4 linked regions of the Homo sapiens genome follow. The protein of the gene in region 1 purifies or fractionates together with the protein of each later gene. This does not show direct contact. Each region holds a gene or a part of one and is shown on either strand. Other genes may lie near its edges.

Region 1 (4,034 bases):
TCCATTCAAAGATGTCTGCTAGGCCGGTTGTGGTGGCTCACACCTGTAATCCTAGCCCTTTTGGAGGCCAAGGTAGGTGGATCATCTGAGGTCAGGAGTTCGAGACCAGCCTGGCCAACATGGTGAAACCCTGTCTCTACTAAAAATTCAAAAATAGCCGGGCATAGTGGCACGTACTTGTAATCCTAGCTACTCGGGAGGCTGAGGCACGAGAATCGCTTGAACCTGGGAGGCGGAAGTTGTAGCCAGCCGAGATCGTGCCACTGCCCTCCAGCCTGGGCGACAGAGCAAGACTCCGTCTCAAAAAAATAAAAAATGTCTGCTAACCCATTCTGACTGGCCACCTGACCCTCAGTTCATACCTTAAACCCCTCTAGTTCCTCTAGTCATATACCACACTTTGGCCATAAGGTATCATGCAACTAAAGAGACACAATGCTTAGTTGTCCAATCAAGAGAAATCAGCTCAAACGAATCCTTTTTCAAAGTTTGGCAGTTTTGAAGAGGCCTTTTCCTGAAAGGTATCTGATTCCTGATTGCGTGGCTCAAAATAGTTCTTCAATTCTCATCTTGTATAATTAGTCAAGAAACCAATTACTGCCGAGTAATCTTTATGATGCGAAGATTATAACGTAAATTACAGGACATCGACTTCTTGCGATGGGGCTTTCCTTCCACGAGGGGTAGGAACTGTCTTGAAATCAGACGTCAGCATCACCTGGTTCAAGGGATAAGGGACTGGCTCTCCAGCGACTTGGCAACTTACAAGCGCTCTTTAAACACGCCTTAAACTACTTATTTAATCCTCCACACTCAGGGAGGCGCAATTTATTCTCGAGTTGCGAGTGAGGAAATTCTGGCTCGTGGCTTCGATTCCTTCATCCGTACAATGGGGGCGACTTGAGACGGAGTTCCCACACAACGGGTGCTCGCCGAAGCGCCGCATCCCTCCGCACTCCCTTCCGGGACTTCCTCTCCCTGTCTTGCCCCGCCCCGGCATCGGTAACGCTCGCCTGTGATTGGATGCCGGCCGGCCGTGAGGCGGTGGAAGGGGTTGCGGTGGCCATGGTGACAGGAGGCGGGGCGCCGCGCCCCTCCGGCAGTCACCGAGGCCCGGACCTGCGGCGTCGGCGGCGCGCGCAGAGGGCCAGGCGGGCGTAGAGGCCGGACCGACGCGTGGCGGCAGAGGGTATCCAAGGCCGGACCTGGCGCGCAGGCGCTGACCCGACCTGGCAGTGAGCTGGCCGCGGCCTTGGCTGAGAGGCCTTAACCCCGCCGGGCGGCCGCGCCCTGCATGCGAGTTGGGCCGCGGGCGGGGTTGGAGCCTACTCGGGGCGACTGCGATGGACGCCTTAGAAGGAGAGAGCTTTGCGCTGTCTTTGTGAGTAGCTCCTCCAGGGCGCAGGCGACTTGGGGCCGGAGGCAGCGGGCGTTCGCCCCGGGGCCTGACCCTATAAAACAGGTGTCCTTAGGGGCCGGGCCGGGCCGGGCCGGGCAGGGTGGGGGCCGCCAAGGCGCCGTCCCAGCTCCAGGCCTTCCTTTTGTAGAGTACTAAGGCTGCAGGTTTCAGGCCCCGCAGGACAGGAGTGCGAGGCGGGTGTCACCGTTGATCAGCGCCTCCATCACAATCCCCAGCCGCCAACCCTCAGCTGTCAGCAAAGCCTGGAGGGGTTGAGCGCCCGAGGCCCCTCCACCCCTCCCTGGCCCCCGCCTCCCGGACTCCTGACCAAATGACCCCCCCCGGCAGGTGTTTCGCCCGTGCCGGGTTCATGCTCACAAGCAGACAGGTATGGGGTGATAGCTAAGAGCCTGGAGAACAAGTTTTTATTAAAGTGGAGTCATGACATTGAACGTTCATGTCACAAACGTGCCGAGTGTGTTTTCTTCTGTTTGGACTTACTAGATCAGTCAGTCATTCTTAATCGTTGAAGATGGGTGATGGGAAGTTCGTTTTGCTACTCTTTTTTCTCTTGTGCATGTTTGAAAACGTCCATACTAAAAACATTTTTTTAATGCATTATTTGAAATAGCACCTAATCCAGGCATGTTTTTCAGCTCCTCCGCCTCTGATGCAGAATTTGATGCTGTGGTTGGATATTTAGAGGACATTATCATGGGTAAGCTTTTAAGATACTGTTTTTAAGGACTTGCTTGTTTCTTTAAGGACATTGAAATCAATTTGGAGAGTTAATTTTAAAAAGAGAAAACATCAAGCTGCCTGCAATTTTTAATGTAGCACAATGTAATACTTAAGTAAAGGCTTACTGCAGTTTGTCTTAGAAACAAACAGCCCAGTACTCCTGAAAACATCTAATAAGCATAGATTCAGAGGCTGGAAGGGACTGACTCAGGCTAATAGGGCACCAGCAGTGTGGCGTTCTTCGCAAAACTATAGGAAATAATGATCTACTCTATTTCTTATGTAGGGTAAGAGCAATTTCAATTTTAGATAGTTTTGAGTTTTAACATTTTCATGCCATAAAACACATAAAACCAGGCCAGGTGCGGTGGCTAACGCCTGTAATCCCAGCACTTTGGGAGGCCGAGGTGGGCGGATCACGAGGTCAGGAGATCAAGACCATCCTGGCTAACACGGTGAAACCCTGTCTCTACTAAAAATACAAAAAAAATTAGCCGGGCGTGGTAGCGGGCGCCTGTAGTCCCAGCTACTCAGGAGGCTGAGGCAGGAAAATGGCGTGAACCTGGGAGGTGGAGCTTGCAGTGATCCGAGATCGTGCCACTTCACTCCAGCCTGGGCGACAGAGCGAGACTCCGTCTGGAAAAAATAAAAATGAAAATAAACACATAAAACCATAACCATAAGCACACATGGCCATAAAGAAAACAAGGTATTAAGCTTCAGCTGGTTCTGTATTTTCCTAGGTTTTGAGTTCCTACTTGTGGATGTATTTGGGCATCCATGAAACCTGCTAAGTAACAGAGAAGCAGTAACAGTCCCCAGAGGTTTAAGACAAGTATGTAGGAGGGGAAAACTTACATTTGAGAAAATTCTGTTGACTTTAAGTTTTATGAGAATTGAGAAAAGAACACTGTTATTTGGTGTTATTGGCTGTATGGCTTAATCCATTTAGAATGAAAATTACTGACCAAGTTTTTATACCTTCAGGTATAAAGGTTCATGCCCTTAACTCCTGAATATAGATGTTTCATCATTAAGCTCGTTTCCCATGTGGACTTGGGGATTTCTGGGGAATACTGAAGAATCCATTCAGTTCTCTTGCCTATTATACCCTATATGCTATGGGAAAATGAGCCTTCTGTGAGCCTACGGTATTTATCCCAAAGTCTGGGTCCTTTCTGAAACTTTCCTTTTATTTTTAGAAATAATCTATTCAGTTGTTAAAATTCCTTATTCCGGGATGGGTACGGTGGCTCACACCTATAACCCCAACACTTTGGGAGGCCAGCGCAGGTGGATTGCTTGAGTCTAGGAGTTCGAGACCAGCCTAGGCACCATAGGGAGAACCCTGTCTCAATTAAAAAAAAAAAATTCCCTATTCCCTATCATTTATTAAGTGTTCACTATGAACTAATCTATTTACATGAATTCTCATCTAAATTCCACTTCCAATCCTATATGATAACTACCATAAACCATTCTTATTTTCCAGATAAATGTGTTTATATGGGGGTTAGAGAAATTAAGTAACTTACCCAAGGTCACACAATTAGTAAGTAGCTGAGATGCGATTCGAACCCAGACGGGCTAGCCTCTTTCAGACCCCATAATTTTAATCACTACACTGTTTCCACAACTGCTGTGGAAGTTATATCAAAATAAGAGAGAACCAATTCATTCCTTTTCAGAAAAGTAATGTCAGGGAGTTCCCAAGCCACCCTGTGTGGATATGGTTAAAATGGACTGAAGGATGGTGGTGATCATTGCACAACAATGTAAACATACTTAAAGCCACTGAGCTGTGTGCTTAAACATTAAAATGATAAAAAAAAATTGTATATCTCACCACAATTTAAAAAGAAAACAGGGCTGGGTGCGGTGGCTCACACCTGTA
Region 2 (3,500 bases), on another chromosome or scaffold:
ATGTAATGTAATATAATTGGGTTGTTTGACTTATTGAGTTATAAGAAGTTTTTTTTTTTAGAAATATATTCTGGATGTAAGTTTTTTAGTAGATACATGATCTGCCAATATTTCTTTACAGTCTGTTGCTGGTCTTTTCATTGCTTAAAAAATTGGTGGCTGGGCGTGGTGGCTCACACCTGTAATCCCAGCACTTTGGGACACTGAGGCTGGTGGATCATGAGGTCAGGCATTCGAGACCAGCCTGGCCAACATGGTGAAACCCCATCTCTACTAAAAATACAAAAATTAGCCGGGTGTGGTGGTGTGCACCTGTAGCCCCAGCTACTTAGGAGGCTGAGACAGAGAATCGCTTGAACCCGGGAGGCAGAGATTGCAGTGAGCCGAGATCGCACCACTGCACTCCAGCCTGGGCAACAGAGCGAGACTCTGTCTCAAAAAAAAAAAAAAAAAAAAAAAGGCGATTAAGATCTTTTAAAGTGTAATTAGTTTAAATTTTGATGAAGTGTGGTTTCTAAATTTTTTCTTTTATAGATTATACTTTTGTTGTCTTATGTAAGAACTCTGCCTAATCCAAGATCTTGAGATTTTTCTGCTTTCTAGAAGTTTTATAGTTTTAACTCTAACAGTTAGATTTTATCATCTATTTTGAATTAATTTCTGTGTATGGTGAGAAATAAGGTTCTAAATTCATCTTTTACATACAGATGGTTCTGTCAACCTAAGTAAAAGACAGTCCCTCTGAAAGAAAGCAGTATTTATTCAGGAATGGGCATTATAATGGGAATATGCATACCGTAGTAAACTATGTGCATATTCAGGGAGGTAAAGGAAGACATAGCTTTTTTTTTTTTTTTTTTTAAGACAAGAGTCTCGCTCTGTCGCGCAGGCTGGAGTGCAGTGGCGAGATCTCAGTTTATGGCAAGCTCCGCCTCCCGGGTTCACGCCATTCTCCTGCCTCAGCCTCCCGAGTAGCTGGGACTATAGGCGCCCGCCACCATGCCCAGCTAATTTTTTGTATTTTTAGTAGAGACAGGGTTTCACCGTGTTAGCCAGGATGGTCTCGATCTCCTGACCTCGTGATCCTCCCACCTGGGCCTCCCAAAGTGCTGGGATTACAGGCATGAGCCACCGCGCCCGGCCAAGACAGATTTTTAAAGGAAAAATGAGGAAGATTACATCATTGTTTTAAATCAATTATGTTTGGCTATAAAGATCAGTGACAAGAGTGATGCCAGTCTGAGGTTGGACATGAAGTTACTGGGCAGATGTCCTTGCAGAAGTATTTTTTTGTGTAAGGTTGCAGTTGCCTTTGTGCAGGGTTGTGGCCTTTATGAGTTTTTTTGTGATAGTTTTTTTTTTTTTTTTTTTTAAATGTAGTCCCGCTCTGTAGCCCAGGTTGGAGTGCAGTGGTGCGATCTCGGCTTGCCGCAACCTCTGCCTCCCGGGTTCAAGTGATTCTCCTGCCTCAACTTTCCACGTACCTGGGACTACAGGCCTGCGCCACCATGCCTGGCTAATTTTTGTATTTTTAGTAGGAATGGGGTTTCACCATTTTGGCCAGGTTGGTCTTAAACTCCTGACCTCAAGTGATCTGCCTGCCCTGGCCTCCCAAAGTGCTGGGATTACAAGCGTGATCTGCCTGTCTCGGCCTCCCAAAGTGCTGGGATTACTGGCGTGAGCCACCATGCCCGGGCAATAGTTATTTTTTTTTAATCAGGTATTCATGCATGAGAACCCTCCTTTCATGGCCTTCCCTGGCTCCATTTGTCAGGGCTTTTAACACAAATGACTCAATTTTAATTCTAACAACTTTCACTTTTCCCCCTTTTGATCAAAATCTTTCTTTGGACCCAGGCACAGTGGCTCATGCCTGTAATCCTGGCGCTTTGGGAGGCAGAGGCAGGAGGATTGCTTGAGCCCAGGAGTTTGAGACCCACCTGGGCAACATGGTGAGACCCTGTCTCTAAAAAAACAAATAAAACAAAAGGGATCTTTCTTTGGAAGCATCACTGATCAATCATCTTGTAGTTAGGTTTTAATTATCTTTAGGTGCCAGGATGGACCTGTCCTGGGTTGTTGGTATGGTCCCATGTTGGAGGGAGTGCTTGTCAAACTAGGAGTCAGTGTCAGGACCCTTTCAGTCACATTTGAGCACACAAGGGAAGTTTGGAGGGAGTGATTCTCAGGCTAAGTCTGCCGGGAATCCATTATTAAGATCAGTTTTTGTCTGTTCCTTAAATGTAGGCTATCATCTCAGGGTTTAGGGCCAGCCCAGTATAATTCTGTTGGGTCAGTATAATTCTGTACTACTACAGAAATGTAACAAATAACATGTACAAAGTTTAAAAAGGAAAATACAAAGTAAAATTAATAGTAATATAATACCAGTTTACATAATGGTTTTGAGCCATGAAGCTAGACCTAAAGGCAGTCAGTTGAAGAAACCAAGTGACCATGGAGAACTAGATGAGACCTGTTGTAACCATGTGATCTGTTTTCTTATTTTGCGTATGAGTCTCAACTTCCTCAAAGGAATTTATCCAGGTAAATCATGTAGTATTAGTAATAGCACAGACATTTCTTTACTTAACCAATAGCTAATGCAGAGCATTGTTATCATTCGGCATTCCATAACTGGGTTGAATTAAAGCAGAGTGTGAATAATTTTTTTAGGGATGTTGCCAGAGTCACCCACTAGGTGGACTGAAGGATCTCTTAGGTCAAGTTCTGTCAAGTTACCAGCAGAAGCTACTGATTGTGAAATTTCAGTTACAACATTATCTTGCCAAGTGAAAAAGCTACGCCTTAAGAGGGGTAAGAGTCTCCCCTTGTTCAATTATCTTGGGAAAACCTGTCTACAGTGCGGAACCATCGACTTCTCATCCTGGTTTGCAGTTTGAATGTCTCTGGTTAAGGCATTGGGCAGTTTGGTGAACTTTTCTGTGTGGCTCAGACTTCGAGTACCAGACTTGTCCCTTAAAATTCATCGAGTTTCAGCTTATAGGGCTTCAGGAACAGAGCAATTTCTGTTTTAATAATTCTGTGGAAGAAAGTTGGATTGGAGGAACCTAGAAGAATTTAGGATCTAGGCCAGTTTGCAGGTAGATAATAAAAACTCAAATACAGTGTACAGGGCTACAGTCTAATAATAGATACAGTAGTTTTTCTTTAGAAGCATAACTTTTTATAGTCATCCCAGTTTCTACCAATCAGAATAAGACAAATTTGTTTATAAAATAGTTTTATTAGTTTTTTGTCTGATTATTTACATAAATGCAGCAAGAATAGCTGTTGACCACAAAGAAATCTCAGATTTATAAACCCTTCAAGACTAGGAAGCCAAACCAAGGGAGACATTAGATTTCACCTACAGCCTTAAGGTTCCTGGGCTGGCCAAGAAGTGACAGATTATATTCTCTCACTGTAGGAATGGGAACACCTGAACCCAGACATTGTGTGCACATTCTTAAATAAGATATTCCAGTCAAAGTCTTGGT
Region 3 (4,241 bases), on another chromosome or scaffold:
CTTCCTCACTGTCCCAACATTCACTTTCATTGCACCTGTTCTCCAAGGCTCTCCATTTAGATGTTCTGGGTTGACCAATCTAGCCTCAAAGCCCTGAGTTTTGACTGCCTTGAGTTCTTGTTCCAGGCTAAATAGACCTGACGCCTGCTTGGATCAGAATTGGGAAGAAGGATGTGGTGGGCAAAGAACACTGATGAGACAAAGGCAGCGCGGTGTCCACAGCTAGACTGGCAAACTGAGAGCCTGTGGTTGCACTGTTTTTTTTTTTTTTAAATTAAGGTATAGCATACATATGGTAAAATGCATTACTTTTAAGGGTGCAGCTCAGGAGACCTGTTTTGAAGAACAAATGTCAGTGTTCATGTGTAACCTTAGGGCAAGGCAGATAATCTTTCTGCATCCCAGTTCTCTCCTCTGGTAGGGAACAATTTAGAAGTACCATGCTTGTATGGATAGGGGCTCTTCATGGAAGCAAAGGATACTATGTATACTGACAATGTTTATACACAACGGAAAATAAGCAGAGAAAAGGAATGTCAATTTGTTGCTTATTTAAAATGTTTACTATTCATGCCTAATTACCACGAAGTCCAGTAACTACGGTGAATAACTATCTGTAACTATAAGTATCTACTGCATTTGCATTTGTATAAACCGACCTCTATCATACTATTCTGCGTGTATACCCTGAATCTCTGTATTCCCTGCTGCCCACCATTTCTATCCAGGTCAGCTGGACAGGCAGCTCTCCTGTGTCAACTGTGGTAAGAGGTGCTCACACAGAACCAACTAGCCTAACCTCTCATGTCAACCCAATGACTCGAGTCTTATTTAAAATGGTTCCCTTCAACCAGCAGTAAGTCAACAAACATTTACTTGGTGCCTACAATGTGCCTGGCATCAAACGCAGTGCAGGATAAGTGGGTGAACGAGAGAGACAAGGTCCTGGCTTCTAGGACTTCCAATTGAACGATGACAAGCTACATGGCTGAGGGACTGTTTCCATAACACCTCCTCCATTCTTTGCACTGCCTTTTAAAGCCACAGAGCTGTTTTCTCAGGAATGCAAACACACCGGGCTGGGCTATTTTTACTTCCCACGTCTGTCTGAGGAGGAGACTTAAAGCAAGCTGGGCTCTCAGGCCTGCATCTGCTGGCTGTGTGGACTCCACACCTTCTTACTTACCCATCCGCCCTCAGAGCAGATTCGTACTTTCTGCATGTCTGCCGGGCCGTCCTCTAGTTCCCGGCTCTGAATCTCTTCTTCCTCTTCCTCTTCTTTCAGGCTCAAATTGAGAGGGTAGGCTGTGGACTCCATCTCTGCAAGCAAGATTCAGGTTCAGAAAAACCAGGTGTCACTGTGACCTCCCCAAAGCCTATGATGGGGGAGGCTGAGCCACATACAAACCTCTTTAGCCCCAAGCACTGTTCCCGCTGGAGGGAAGTAAGGAAACAAGAGTCGGCCAGGAAGCTACAGGGTGACATGTTTAATTATGATAAGAGAGGCTGTGGGTAGATAACGTATCTGGCTGCCTTCAAATATTTAAAAAGCTATCTGGGGAAGAGAACCCAGACTGGTTTGTAGAGACTGGACGGCAGAACAGAGGCCGGCCAGTGGATAAATACTCCTGGAAAAGGTTTTAAGCAGTGAGAAAGGCAGTACTTTCTCACAGCCAGTGCCACCCAAACAGGAATCAGAGGCAGGGGAAAGGTGCTGATTTCCTATCAGTGAAGGTGTCTGAACACAGATTGGACACTTACTCAACTGGAATGGGTGCTAGAAGCCAGTTAAGCATGGGCGGAGCGGTTGGCTCAGTAGGCCCATTGCCTGGATTTTCCAAATTCAAAGGTTCTGTCCACGAGCTGGTTCAGAAAATAGGGTCATTCTACCTTAAGGGACTTTGCAAACGCAGGAGTCAGTGAAACATAGTGAGGGTTATGCCTGGATACCCAAAAAGGTGCAGAAATCGGCTGGGGCCCACCCCGACAGGGAAATAACCCATTGCCTCTGGGCTGCAAATTCTCTATTCGCTGACTCTTGGCCAGTACAAAGGGCCGCACTCCTGCCCTCTATGGGCGCGGGCAATTCCTAGGTGTGGAGTGCGGATGCATCTTGAGGGCTGCATCGGGGAACCTCCAAAGAAAAGATCCCTCTGGAGTTCAAAGTCGGTTCCTTCGATATTTCCAAAAAAGATAGGCGAACGCGGCATGGATGGGTCTAGGCTTCAGATGCCTGCAGCTGGGGCCCGAACTTGGCGGCGGTCTCCCTGCCGGCTCCGGGGCAGAGGTGGGAGGGGCCGCCTCCCCGCGCTAAGGTGCCGCAACCAGGGCCGCCGCCCGCCCTGCCCCGCCTGCGCCACCGCCGCCGCGCCCCCGGGCGCGTTCGGATTTCTCCAGCCATCTTGCCCCATTTCCCTTTCTCCGCGGAACCGCGCCGGGAGCGCTTCCGCTGCCCCCTCCGCCCGGCCCGCCTCCCCACCTGGCCCCCTCCCGGCCCCAGCGCACCTGCCGGGCGGCGAGAGCCGGCGCCGCCCGCCTCCCCGGCGGGCCCGCAACAAAGGCGGCGGCGGCGGCGGCGCAGCCTCGGCGCCCCCGCCTCTGCCGCGGCCCAGCCGCCCGGGACCCGGGGGAGGGGCCGCGCCGCCGCCGCCCCCGCCCGCGCGCACTCACCGCCGGGCCCAGCGGCCAGGGCGCGGGGTGGGGACGCGAGGGCTCCGGCCCGGCTGTCACAGCGCCATCCTTTCCGCCTCTCCGTCCTCCCGTGCGCGCGGCCCCTCGGGAGGGAGCGGGGAGGACACGTGGTGGGAGGAGGGAGGGTCCGGCCCGGAGCTGAGGGTGTTGGGAGGCGAGGGGAGGAGCGCGGCTGATGTCAGCAGGCCTCGGCGGCGCCGGGGGACGGCGCCCGCGCGAGCTCCGGGGCCCTCCTCTAGGCGCGGCTTCCGGCCGGTCCGGGCAGTCCCTGGCGGGCCTGGGTAGCCGTGCCCTCGGCCTTCCCCGCCCCGCCCGATGCAGGCCGCTTCCAGTGCTGCGTGTGACCTCGGCGTGGACGAGGCAGGAAGAGCCCAGATTGATTTTAACCGAGCGTAGCGTGGGCGCACAGTTCCATGTGCTCATTTGCAGTCACCAGCGGGTTGCACTTGCTTGGACGAGCTCTCCAGGCGTTCTCGCCGTGCTTCAGGCAATGAAAGGCTAGACCGGCAAGAGCGTGTAGGGGCATGAGGAGGGGTCTTTGGGGAAGAGTATTCGTATTCTGGCAGCGGGCTCCTGTCCAGAACTTCGTCATATACATGGAGAAGGAACTTCCTGATTTTTGTAGCTGTTGCTTAATATCCCAAGCATGTAATTCCTTGGATGAAGTGGGTGTATAGAAGGACCTTTCTTCTCCAAAACGTCCAAAGGAGTTGTTTACTCTCAGCTCTGTGGGCAATACAACAAAAGTGACCTGAGAAGCCCTGAAGCCCTTTTCATTCCAGAAAAAGATTCTGGGTATGGGTTTTTGTTGAGAACTTGTTGAAGAAAAAATTATTCTGACACTTGTTAAAACAGTAAGGAAGACTTTATACAGGGTTATTGCTATAGGTGTAAAGATGATCACACTGGGGGGAGAGATGAGGTCTAACACGGAATACAGTAAGGACAGCTGGGGATGTATAGCCAAGGAGCAGAACGAAGGGGTCAGTAGATGGAAAGTTACTGATACGAGACATCAAGCACCTAGAGGGATTCTTGCTGAACCCACTTAACAGGATTCTTGCTGAAGGCAGGCTAGGGCGATCAGATATCAAGGGTGGGGGAATGAGAAATTTGATCAGATATCCAGGGTGATCAGATATCAAGGGTGGTGATTTCTCTCTAACCTAACTTAGCAGGGTTCTTGCTAAAATAGAGCTGGGCAGGCCAAAGGTTCGGGGTGAGTGGTCAGGGGACCAGGGTGGAGGCCTGCTGAAGAAGAGGACTTAAGCCTGATTAAACTTTGGTCAAGGAAAGAGTCCGTCAAACTCTTCAGATTGTCTCTGAGACCTGAATATCTGTTGGAAAAGACCTGTCTTTCCAAGTTTTTGTGGCCACTACTACTTACATGTGAATTTTACTTCTCTCAGTCATGGGAGAGGTCACTGTGCACTGTGCTCTTAACACGTAAAATGTAGCATGACATAACGTACACATCTTGGAAGTGCAATCACGGTGACAACCCAAGACCGTAGAAGATCTAATCTGTGGGTGGAAAAGATCGTTCAAAT
Region 4 (3,500 bases), on another chromosome or scaffold:
TATTGTTTGTTCTAATTTTTGGATAAGGAAAGTTGAAGGCCCAAGAAGTTGAGACTAGTCCAACCTCATAAGTAGCAGAGAAAGGATTTTTTTTTTTTTTGAGATGGAGTCTTGCTCTGTTGCCCAGGCTGCAGTGCAGTGGCACAAACTCGGCTCACTGCAAGCTCTTCCTCCCGGGTTCACGCCATTCTCCTGCCTCAGCCTTCTGAGTAGCTGGGACTACAGGCACTCGCCACCACGCCCGGCTAATTTTTTTTGTATTTTTAGTAGAGACGGGGTTTCACCGTGTTAGCCAGGATGGTCTCGATCTCCTGACCTCATGAGCCACCTGCCTCCCAAAGTGCTAGGATTACAGGCATGAGCCACCGCGCCCGGCCCAGGATTTTTTTTTTTTTCCATCAGAGTCATAGAGTGCAGTGGCACAATCTCAGTTCAATGCAACCTGCACCTCCCGAGCTCAAGCAATTCTCATGCCTCAGCCTCCCGAGTAACTGGGGTTACAGGCACACGCCACCACACCCAGCTAATTTTTGTATTTTTAGGAAAGATGGGGTTTTGCCACGTTGGCCAGGCTGGTCTCAAACTCCTGACCTGAGGTGATCCGCTCGCCTCAGCCTCCCAAAGTGCTGGGATTACAGGCGTGAGCCACCATGCCTGGCTCAGAGAAAGGATTTTTGAACCAGGATCTCCTTACAAAGACCTTGATCTTTCCTCTATACCAGGGATTGGCAAACTACGGTCCTCAGACCAAATCTGGCCTACTGCCTGTTTGTATAAAGTCTTATTAGACCACAGCTGCTATGGTTTGAATGTTTGTGTCCTTGAAAAATGCATATGTTGAAATCCTAACCCCCAAGATGATGGTATTAGGAGATAGGACCTTTGGGAATCAAAGCCCTCATGACTGGGATTAGTGTCCTTATAAAAGACACCCCAGAGATACCATGTGACAACATAGTGAGAAGGCACCATCTGTGAACCAGAAAGTGGGCCCTCACCAGACACCAAATCTGCTGGCACCTTAATCCCAGCTTTCAGAACTATGAGATAAATCATATAGTATCACTCATGCCACATTCTGTTGGTTACAAGCCCGTCCAGATTCAAGGGGAACGAACATAGATTCCCAATTCTCAATGGGAGGAGTGTCAGATTTTGCAACCATTTTTTGAAAACTGCCACAGACTTCTCACTAGTATCAGAAATTCAACATATGATCTTCATAAAACATTTCATCAGCATTTTTTCTTCTCTGTTCAGTAGTACCATCATTATTTCACTCTTCTGGGCTTGAAAACTTAATCATCCTTGCTTTTTTTCATCCAAATCCATTTGTACTACAATTTCTTTTTATTTTTTTTTAAATCTTTTGGATGTCACTGTTTTTCTCACTGCCATCACCAGACCCCTGAACCATTGTAGTAACACCCCAAAATGCACTCTCTGCTCACTGGTCTCTCCCAACCCAGAGTGTACTGTGCCATGCAGAATAATGTGTATGTGCTGCTTAATCTGTAGATTTCATCAAATTATCAAGGGGCCCATTACTTAAAAAAAGTTTGACAACCATGCGTTGGGAGTCCCCAAGACTGCCCCCATATTTAGAGATTCATTAGAAGGGCTAAGCATATAAGGCATAGTGTGTCTAAGGTTTATTAGTAAAAGGACGCAGAATAGAATCAGCAAAGGAAAAAGACACTAGTAGAAATCTGGAAAAAGTCATGCACAGGTTTCCTTATGTTTTCCTTCCTGTGGGAGGATACTGCAAGCATGTTACTTTCTCCAGCAACGAAAAATGTAGTAATGTATATGTACAGTGTTTTTGTTTTTTTTTGTGGGGTTTTTTTGTTTTGTTTTGTTTTGTTTTTTTTGAGAGAAGGTCCTGCTCCGTGGTCCAGGTTGGAGTGCAGTGGCTCAGTCACAGCTCACTAGCAGCCTCAACTTCCCAGGCTCAAGTGGTCCTCCTACCTCTGCCTTCTAAGTAGCTGGAACTACAGGTGCATGCCACCACACCAGAATAATTTTTTTTTTTTTTGGTAGAAACTGGAGTTTGCCATGTTGCCCAGGTTAGTATGTACAACGTTTATGCCCAGAGAAACCCATTAGAGACTCAGGGTCCGAGGTTTTTATTGGAGGCTGATCATGTAGGCACTCTACCAGATACCTAGCAGGTACCAAAATTTCAGACTCCCAGAAGGAAAACAGGTGTTGGCATAAACTTTATTGTTTACACAGACTAGGCGGAATAAACCACCCTTATGAGTTGGGGAAAAGTGGGAATACTCTCAAAATCTAGTTCTGAGTTGTTGAGGGCCAACCTTGTATATAGGTTTTCCTAAAAATAGCATCCTCCAGTGCTTTGAGAGACCGAGGCAGGAAAATCACTTGAGCCTAAGAGTTCGAGACCAGGCCAGGCACAGGGGCTCATGCCTGTAATCACAGCACTTTGGGAGGCTGAGGCGGGTGGATCACAAGGTCAGGAGTTCAACACCAGCCTGGCCAGAATGGTGAAACCCCGTCTTTAGTAAAAATACAAAAATTAGCTGGCGTGGTGGTGGAAGCCTGTAGTCCCGGCTACTCGGGAGGCTGAGGTAGGAGAATCGCTTAAACCCAGGAGGCAGAGGTTGCAATGAGCCAAGATCGTGCCACTGCACTCCAGCTTGGGCAACAGAGCGAGACTCCGTCTCAAAAAAAAATAAAAATAAAAAAATTCGAGACCTGCCTGAGGAACATAGTAAAACCTCATCTCTACAAAATTAGCTGGACATGATGGTGTGCACCTGTAGTCCCAGCTACTTGGGAGGCTGAAGCAGGAGGATCACCTGAGCCCAGGAATTCAACGTTGCAGTGAGCTATGATTGTGCCACTGCACTCCAGCCTGGGCAACAGAGCGAAACTGTCTCTAAAAAACAAAAAAGTTTAAAGAAACTAAACCTCTTTGCATCCCTCTACCTTATTCAAGCAGAATGTCTTACATTCTAGTAAATATGATTGCTAAAGAACTCAAGTTACCTACATCATGATAAGTCATTAAATTGTTTTTGGCTGGTTGTGGTGGCTCACACCCACAATCCCAACACTTTGGGAGGCTAAGGTGGGCAAATCACTTGAGCCCAGGAGTTCAAGACCAGCCTGGGCAACATAGCGAAACCCCATCTCTATAAACAATACAAAAATTAGCTGGGTATGGGGGGGCGTGTGTCTATAGTCCCAGCTACTTGGGAGGCTGAGGTGGGAGGATGGCTTGAGCCAGGAGGTAGAGGTGGCATTGAGCCAAAATAGCGCCACTGCACTCCAGCCTGGATGACAGAGCCAGACCTTATCTCAAAAAAAATAAAAAAATTGTTTTCAAGTAGATTCCCTGTTTAAAAATAATCTTGAATTCTTTATATTTCAATACTCCTAAATAATGTAATAAATACATATGTTAAATTAGGTTAGAATTTCATTATGATCTCCTCACTAGATCTTCTCTCCGTGGCAGGATGCAGACTCATCTG

What was found. The genes of interacting proteins can lie anywhere in the genome.
Region 2: the proteins of ARL2BP (region 1) and ELF2 purify together in Homo sapiens (affinity purification with mass spectrometry; one large-scale study listed by BioGRID and IntAct). This does not show direct contact.
Region 3: the proteins of ARL2BP (region 1) and POGK purify together in Homo sapiens (affinity purification with mass spectrometry; one large-scale study listed by BioGRID and IntAct). This does not show direct contact.
Region 4: the proteins of ARL2BP (region 1) and HMCES purify together in Homo sapiens (affinity purification with mass spectrometry; one large-scale study listed by BioGRID and IntAct). This does not show direct contact.

What each region holds. Positions count from the first base shown.
Region 1 is NC_000016.10:57,244,025-57,248,058, forward strand, and holds the start of ARL2BP (ADP-ribosylation factor-like protein 2-binding protein), read left to right. Parts: upstream 1-1,234; 5' UTR 1,235-1,343; coding exon 1,344-1,381; intron 1,382-1,768; exon of another isoform or gene 1,769-1,787; intron 1,788-1,790; exon of another isoform or gene 1,791-2,055; coding exon 2,056-2,117; exon of another isoform or gene 2,118-4,034. UniProt on the Homo sapiens protein: Together with ARL2, plays a role in the nuclear translocation, retention and transcriptional activity of STAT3. May play a role as an effector of ARL2.
Region 2 is NC_000004.12:139,167,219-139,170,718, reverse strand, and holds part of ELF2 (ETS-related transcription factor Elf-2), read left to right. Parts: intron 1-1,862; exon of another isoform or gene 1,863-1,952; intron 1,953-2,676; exon of another isoform or gene 2,677-2,817; intron 2,818-3,500. UniProt on the Homo sapiens protein: Isoform 1 transcriptionally activates the LYN and BLK promoters and acts synergistically with RUNX1 to transactivate the BLK promoter. Isoform 2 may function in repression of RUNX1-mediated transactivation.
Region 3 is NC_000001.11:166,838,034-166,842,274, reverse strand, and holds the start of POGK (pogo transposable element with KRAB domain), read right to left. Parts: upstream 2,801-4,241; 5' UTR 2,671-2,800; exon of another isoform or gene 2,506-2,670; intron 2,421-2,505; exon of another isoform or gene 1,762-2,420; intron 1,321-1,761; 5' UTR 1,319-1,320; coding exon 1,187-1,318; intron 1-1,186.
Region 4 is NC_000003.12:129,285,370-129,288,869, forward strand, and holds part of HMCES (abasic site processing protein HMCES), read left to right. Parts: intron 1-3,484; coding exon 3,485-3,500.